Linked DNA regions of Homo sapiens. The protein of the gene in region 2 interacts with the protein of the main gene of each other region in a pairwise test. Each region holds a gene or a part of one and is shown on either strand. Other genes may lie near its edges.

Region 1 (3,500 bases), on a different chromosome or scaffold from region 2:
GTTCAGAATTACTTGTTGCTTTTGCATTATAATTCATTGGAATTTATGACCCATTTATTAATGTCATTAAAATTTTGTTTTTTTTTCCCTTTTATTTGTTGCTCTGGGGGTTAAAATGATTTTCAAGGACATTACGTTTTCTTTAAATAATGTATTTCTTCTCAAATGATCTTAAATTATGTGATACTCTAACCTTCTGTGTCTTGGGAACTCTAAAGCACTGTATTTTCTATGAGAAAAAAAGATCAATTTTAAAACTGTGGGGAACCCAACCAAATCTGTCTTAAGCAATGGGATGTTGTTTTCACTTTAATTGATGTATTTCATTTTTGTGGAAGTAAACTTTTTAAAGATATATTTTTGAATGATTTAGCACCTGGCATTAGCAGTGGGTTTTAGGAGTCTGAATTTGACTCAAAAGCTTCAACATTTATTACCTGCCCATTATCTGCAAGATTTTGGGCAAAAATTGTGACACAGCCGTAACCAATGGGTATAACTAAAAGTTGCATGAATTAAGTGTGGTGGAAGATTCAGGAAAGGATAATTCATTTTGATATGGTTTTGGGGAACGTGGTATTGTGGATGGAAGAGATTGTGGGGTTCTTAATAAGGAGATCATGCTTAAACCTCAGTGGATAAGAATGATTTGGGAGATCTAGTAGATGATCAAGAGCATTCTAACCCTGAGGAATACAATGAACACAATAGCATCTTGAAGGTGTACCTAATATTTCAACCACTACACAGTAAACAGATGCAATGGCAGCATGGGCTGGTAGAAAATGTAGTGGGAGATAAGGTTGGCTAGGTGGTTTGTGGGGGCAGTAGTTGCCTCAGATGCTATGTTGTGTGTTTGGATTTGTTTTTTCTGTAGGCAACAGGGACCAAAAAAAAAAATACTTTGTAGAAGTATCCACAAATAATTTAATGGATAAGTACACTGTGGTTCATTTATTTATTATAAATTGTGATACCATATAACAATGAAAATACAGCTTTAGCAACAACAGGGATGAATTTTACAAATGTAATTTTGGTCAAAAGATGCACAAAGTAATATATGCTGAATGATTCAATTAAGTTTTAAATGGTGCAGGAACTGAACAGGATTGGTTAGGGATACACACATAGGGGATAAAACTACAAAGAAAATAAAAGACATTCTCGAATCCGAGACGTGCAGGCACACACACACACATATGCATTCTTATCTATGGTATATTTTATGAAAAATACTGAAATATGAAAAAATGCTAAAAAATGATATTCATGAGAACTCAGAGGAGTTTGGTAAAATAGAGGCCACATAGAGTGCCTGTCTCAAAAAGCAGGGTTTCCACAACTGAAGTAGATTGGGTAACAGTCCCATAGTTTTGTGGTGATGAGGGGCCTCAGATAATACTATCTCACTCATTTCACCAATGAAGAACATGTTTTTAGAATTTTTTCCTTCATTTAAAATTTTATTTATTTAAAAATTAACTAACATAGCCTTACAGTTCAGATGTTTAAATGTACAGAAGGGTAAACATTTTGATGTCTTCCCACGCCTGTCCCTGTCTACGCAGTTTCCTCTCAGAAGCAACCCATGTTGTACTTGTAAGCACATCCTGAAATGGAATGAGCCCAATGTAATAGAAAATGTTGGTTTTTTTTTAAATATCAACTTTTTGTGGTTTACCACCAATAAAATGCCCATACTGTAAGTATACAGTCAAATGTATCATATGTGCCTGTGTAACCATACTGGCAGTTGAGATCTAGAATATTTCATCACCCTTAAAGGCTTCTTTGCATCCCTGTTCTATCAGCACCCACCCCTGGGGACTGATCTGTTTCTGTCACTGTTGACTAGGTTGGACTTCCCTAAAGCTTTGTATAAATGGTGTTATTTAGGGTGATAGGGTGATGTCCTTTTTTTTTTTTTTTTGAGACGGAGTCTCTCTCTCTCTCCCAGACTGGAGTGCAGTGGTGCGATCTTGGCTCACTGCAACCTCCACCTCCTGGGTTCTAGCGATTCTCCTGCCTCAGCCTCCCGAGTAGCTGGGACTACAGGCACATGCCACCAAGCCTGGCTAATTTTTGTATTTTTAGTGGTGACAGGGTTTCACCATATTGGTCAGGCTGGTCACGAACTCCTGATCTCAGGTGATCTGCCTGCCTCAGCCTCCTAAAGTGTGTGATGTCTTTTGTGTCTGGCTTTGCTTACTCAGCGTAGTTTTGTGATTCATCTCTGCTGTGTGTATCAGTTATTTGCTGCTTTGTATTGCTGGGTAGTGTACCACTTTGATGATGTACCACAATTTGTTTATCCATTTGCTAGTTGATGTTCCTTCAGGTAGTTTTCATGTTTGACTATTATGAATAAAGCTATTGGAAAACATCACGTAGAAATCTTTGTGTGAAGTGTCTGTTTTTGGTGAGGAAAGTGGTAAGCCCTGATGGTTGCCTTGGATAGGCACAGAATGGAGTGAAAGGTCCGTTTCCTAAGTCTTGCTGATCGCTGTATTGAAATTTAATGGCTTATGATGCAGCTCCTCTTTTGGGCATGTTACATCTGCAGCCTAGAAAGCGTCTCTGATGTGATTTTTTTTTTTATTCAAGTTCTAGGGTACGTGTGCACAACGTGCAGGTTTGTTACGTATGTATACATGTGCCATGTTGGTGTGCTGCACCCATTAACTCATCATTTACATTAGATGTATCTCCTAATGCTATCCCTCCCCACTCCCCCGACCCCATGACAGGCCCTGGTGTGTGATGTTCCCCTTCCTGTGTCCAAGTGTTCTCATTGTTCAGTTTCCACCTATAAGTGAGAACATGCAGTGTTTGGTTTTTTTGTCCTTGTGATAGTTTCCTGAGAATGGTTTCCAGCTTCATTCATGTCCCTACAAAGGACATGAACTCATCCTTTTTTATGGCTGCATAGTATTCCATGGTGAATATGTGCCACATTTTCTTAATCCAGTCTATCATTGATGGGCATTTGGGTTGGTTCCAAGTCTTTGGTATTGTGAATAGTGCCGCAATAAACATATGTGTGCATGTGTCTTTATAGCAGCATGATTTATAGTCCTTTGGGTATATACCCAGTAATGGGATGGCTGGGTCAAATGGTATTTCTAGTTCTAGATCCCTGAGGAATCGCCACACTGACTTCCACAATGGTTGAACTAGTTTACAGTCCCACCAACAGTGTAAAAGTGTTCCTATTTCTCCACATCCTCTGCAGCACCTGTTGTTTCCTGACTTTTTAATTATCGCCATTCTAACTGGTGTGAGATGATATCTCATTGTGGTTTTGATTTGCATTTCTCTGATGGCCAGTGATGAGCATTTTTTCCATGTGTCTTTTGGCTGCATAAATGTCTTCTTTTGAGAAGTGTCTGTTCATATCCTTCGCCCACTTTTTGATGGGGTTGTTCGATTTGTTCTTGTAAATTTGTTTAAGTTCTTTGTAGATTCTGGATATTAGCCCTTTGTCAGATGAGTAGATT
Region 2 (5,427 bases):
ACAAGCATGAGGCACCACGCTTGGTTTTAAGACAGAGTCTTGCTCTGTCACCCAGGCTGGAGTGCAGTGGCGCAATCTCGGCTCACTGCAACCTCCACCTCCTAGGTTCAAGCGATTCTCCTGCCTGAGCCTCCCGAGTAGCTGGGACTACAGGCGCCTGCCACCACGCCCGGCTAATTTTTGTACTTTTAGTAGAGACAGGGTTTCACCATGTTGGCCAGGCTGGTCTTGAACTCCTGACCTCAGGTGATCCGCCCAACTCAGCCTCCCAAAGTGCTAGAATTATAGGTGTGAGCCACCACGCCTGGCCTATCTACTTGTTTTAATAGGACTTCTTCCTAATATCATCTGTACTATGGCAATTTTTAATAATTTTGCAATTTCCTAAAAGATTAGAGTGAGCATACAGTGAAATAAGGACAGCAAGCCATAAAGACATGGTACCAAGTACGACAATAAAAGAAAAACAGGTTGAAGGAGTGAGTTTCAGTAAAAGTCTCCTGTCTTCTACTCATGGCCAAATTCCCCCTATTCTTCAATATCTTGTCCATTTTTATTTTCCTTCAAAAAGCATTCTAAAACCACTCTGACCAATCAAATGCTTTATCCCTTCTAAATTCCTATTCCACTTAAATAGAACCTAAAGGGTCAGAAACTGGAAAGGAAGGATAATGAAGTGTCACTTCTTTTTTATCTATCATAACACCAGGGTCACAGCAGACCATCAATAACTTCTTTTGACAGAACAGTATCTATTTGATGGGTGCTAGCAGATAAAAATAAATAGTATCCTAACCATAATTGCAGCCCCACAAAAACGCCTCATTTAATATTACCTTTCTCCATCCATATGATTTACAGACTCCTCAATGTTACTTGATGTTGAAACATCTGTTGCCGTCTGTTGATTTGTAGATTTTAACTGTTCTACTTCAGTTTTGAGTTCTTCACACTGTGAACGGATTTGTGACTTTTCCATTTCCAGCAATTCAACCTAACAAAAATATAAATGAGCTTTATAACTGTAAAACTTAAAAATACTAATGGCAAAGTGAAATTTCAAGCTAATATAGAGAACCTGCTTGATAACATTATCAACTATCAAAAAACAAATACACAAAGAAAAACCAGTAGTTTTCTATAAACAAGGCTTCATTCGTTTACAGCTTCACTTCTACATCTTTTTACACTGAGAGAATACAACATATTACCACTTGATTTAAAAAAAAAAGTGGTACCTAGAAAATGAAAAACCAGCCGGGCATGGTGGCTCACGCCTATAATCCCAGCACTTTGGGAGGCTGAGGTGGGCAGATCACCTGAGATCAGGAGTTTAAGACCAGCCTGACCAAAATGGAGAAACCCCATCTCTACAAAAAATACAAAATTAGCTGGGTGTGATGGCAGCCGCCTGTAATCTCAGCTACTCGGGAGGCTGAGGCAGGAGAACTGCTTGAACCCAGGAGGTGGAGGTTGCGGTGAGCTGAGATCACGCCATTGCACTCCAGCCTGGGCAACAAGAGCGAAGTTCCATCTCAAAAAAAAAAAAAAACAAAACAAAACAAAACAGAAAAACCAAGATACTAATGCCTAAATTATGTTAATGTCACAGTGGTTTTTATTTCTTGCATACTCATCAGCTTATAATTAAGTTACAATAATGAGTTTATGCTTTTTATAAACAGATGGTCCCTGACTTACAACGGTTTGACTTTATGATTTTCCAGCTTTATGATGGTGTGAAAGTTATATGCATTCTATAGAAACCACACTTTGCATACCAATACAATCATTCTGTTTTTCATTTTCAGCACAGATTCAATACATTACATGAAATACTCAGTATGTTGTAATAAACCAGACTTTGTGTTAGATGATTTTGCCCAAATGTAGGCTAACACAAGTGTTCTGAGCACTTTAAGGCAGGTTAGGCTAGGCTAAGATTTTGGGAGGTTGGCTGTAATTAAATGAATGTTGGAGTTAATGCTGTTTCCAACCTATGATGGGTTTTTCAGGACTGACACCATCATAAGTTGAGGAGCATCTGTATTTTGTCATTCAACTCCTGAGCCAAGACATCAAGATTAGTGTTTGCATGAGTAGCAAATATTCCCAAGGAAGAGACAGCACAGCACCACACCATGGTTCCCAAACTCTTTTTAGCAGGAAAATCCTTTCAAAGGCCTCACACACAAAAATGTATAAAATAGATTAAAAGGAGCTACCTGAATTTGAAGTAGGGGCATATGAAGAAGCTACTGATATTTATCATTTGTCTCTTGGTATTTATCGTTTTTCTCCTTCTTTCTCAGTAGAAGAACCCATGCATAAAGACTGCATTTCCCAGGCACCCTTTAGCCAGATGACTCAGTTCTGATAGTCAGAACACAAGCAACTCAGGCCAGGCATGGGGGCTCACGCCTGTAATTCCAACACTTTGGGAGGCCAAGATGGGTGGATCACTTGATGTCAGGAGTTTGAGATCAGCCTGGCCAATGTGGTGAAACCCTGTCTCTAATAAAAAGACAAAAATTAGCCGGGCATGGTGGCATGTGCTGTAATCTCAGCTACTCGGGACGCTGAGGCAGGAGAATCGCTTGAACTCGGGAGGTGGAGGTTGCAGTGAGCCGAGATTGGGCCACTGCACTCACTCCAGCCTGGGCAACAGAGCGAAATTCTGTCTCAAGAAGAAGAAGAAAAAAAAAAAAAAAAAAAAAAAAAAAAAAAATATATATATATATATATATATATATATGTATGTATGTATATTAATCAAAGATTTTAAAAGGGATAAGTCAGTTTCTCTCAGGAATCTTGAAAGACATAATCTAGAAAAATGAATGACTCCATAACTAAAGGATTAACTATACTTAAAAGCAGAATTGATGCCCAAAAAAGAACATAATTAACTGTATTAATGAGGTATTAAGTTAATATTGGTATTCTGAACAGGACATTTACCATACCTGGCTACCCCTAATATTTTTCAGGAATGCACATCTCAAGACATTGGAAGAACCAAAAATGCCCCTACACAATTCCATATGCCTCCAGGAGGCCCTCTCCTCAGTTGAGAACCAGTAGAATAACAGACACTCAATAAGAACAGAATTATTTTTAAGTGAAAGCATTCCAATCAAGCAATTGGCAGCTTTTTTTTGAGACAGAGTCTCGCTCTGTTGCCCAGGCTGGAATGTGGTGGTGCAATCTTGGCTCACGGCAGCCTCCGCCTCCTGGGTTCAAGTGATTCTCCTGCCTCAGCCTCCCACCACCACGCTAGGCTAATTTTTGTATTTTTAGTAGAAACGGGGTTTCACCATTTTGTCCAGGCTGGTCTCGAACTCCTTGACCTCAAGTGACTGACCCACCCGCCTTGGCCTCCCCAAGTGGTGGGATTACAGGTATGAGCCACCGCGCCCAGCCAACTGGCAGCTTCTTAAGGTTTAAATGGCCCTGGACTCCATGACTACATGTTGGATGATATAACTCACCTCACTTTTATACTGGTCCCTCTCAATACTGCATTTGTCCAGTTGTCTAAACACATCGTCAAGCTGCACAGCCATCTCATCCATTTCACTTTTACTCTCATTATTGGAACACTGGCTGCATTCAGCCTTTACATGTTGCAAAGCACTACATTGTTTTTTCAGCCTTTCTATTTCTTCCAAAGCTTGCTGATACTGAGATACCATATGGTCTGGACTTTCAGATTTGCCATTAATACTTTCAAGTAAAAATACAGCATCGGTTTCAGTGGACTGATGGCAAGTTTCTTTCTTAACATACTTGTCATTCATTTCTAGTATCCTCTGTTGTAACACTTTGATTTGATCAGTAAACATATGACACTGTCTTTTATAATTCTCTTTTTCCTCAGTGACAAGGAGTAGCTGGTTTCTCAGTTCTTGTAATTGGCAGCCTGCATCATCTGCAGATTTATCGGTGGTTTCCTGGGTTTCATGTATCTTTGCTTCAGCTTCTACACAGGAGGGCAGAATCACTGCATCATTTCTTACGTCTATCTCGTCTTCAACAGTTTCTTCTTTTTTAACAACTAAACTTGGTACTTCAGTCTGGGTAGCTGCAGTATTTCCCTGGTCGCATCGGGATGATGAGGTGCTTGTTGAACCAGTCTGGCCACAAGGTTCACTGTCACCCACAAACTCAACCTGAACACCACCTTGCTCAACGTGACTCTGTTCTGATTTCATGTCAATATCATGATCTACTGCAGGTTTGGGGGTACTGTTTTCTTCTAAGATGATGACATCTTCATCATCATCATCACCTTTATAAACTGAATTTTCAAACTGACTACTCAATCTCCGATTCTTTGCATTCAAAATTGAGGAACGAGTAGAAAGTCTCCGTTTCAAGCTGAAAAAAATTTTATACATAAAACATAAGATTATAAAATATGGACAAAATAGATGACCTTGAAGTAATCATTCTAACAAATGCAGTATTGTAACAGTTTTTTTGTTTTTTGAGATGGAGTGTCACTCTGTCGCCCAGGCTAGAGTGCAATGGCACAGTCTTGGCTCACTGCAACCTCTGCCTCCCAGGTTCAAGTGATTCTCCTGCCTCAGCCTCCTGAGGAGCTGGGATTACAGGCACCCGCCACCACGTCCAGCTAATTTTTATATTTTTAGTACAGATGGGGTTTCCCCATGTTGCCCAGGCTGGTCTCAAACTCCTTGAGCTCAAGCAATCTGCCTGCCACAGCCTCCCAAAGTGCTGGGATTAGACACATGAGCCACTGTGCCCAGCTATAAGTTTTGCAATACTAAGAAATACCCAGGCTCATTTTTTAAAGTGACGCATTGTATAGTACCAATCACTGATTTAATGAAGTAGAGATTATTTTCTCTTTTTACAGATGAAGACGATGGACTATTGAGATCTCTTTGAAGTACCAGATCTATTTACTGCCAAACATCTCTGCATTTGATCACCTCCAGGCATTTCAATGTACACATTTCCAGAACAGAATGCTACCCACCCCGGCCCCTTCTTTGTATTCTTCAGCTCAGGGAATGGCACCACCATTTTCATTTGCCCATAATAATTTTTATCAGTAATCAGTGATCAAAGATAAGCCATAAAGCAAACCAGTATTTATCCTTTCATATGAAATAATTTTATCTGAATTAAAATTGCCCCAATTTCTTCATTTGCATCATTCCCTGTTCATTCATGTTAATATGTGCATAGTTCACATTTATTTATCACCATTTGATTGCCTTTTTCCACACTTGGAGGAATATTTGTACTGGTTTGCTATTTGGGCCTTGTGTTAGACCTCCTAGATCTCAGGAAGGATTTTCCTCTTTTTTGGACTGTCTCATATTGGGCGAGCACAGCCTGCAACAGCATCTTAATGAAGGGTACACAGAACATAACAAACGCAAAGTTTTGCATGAT

The links.
Region 1: the proteins of MORC3 (region 2) and RETREG1 interact in a two-hybrid assay, tested with the Homo sapiens proteins (one large-scale study listed by BioGRID and IntAct).

What each region holds. Positions count from the first base shown.
Region 1 is NC_000005.10:16,610,498-16,613,997, reverse strand, and holds part of RETREG1 (reticulophagy regulator 1), read left to right. Parts: intron 1-3,500. UniProt on the Homo sapiens protein: Endoplasmic reticulum (ER)-anchored autophagy regulator which mediates ER delivery into lysosomes through sequestration into autophagosomes.
Region 2 is NC_000021.9:36,367,941-36,373,367, reverse strand, and holds part of MORC3 (MORC family CW-type zinc finger protein 3), read right to left. Parts: intron 4,381-5,427; coding exon 3,492-4,380; intron 995-3,491; coding exon 837-994; intron 1-836.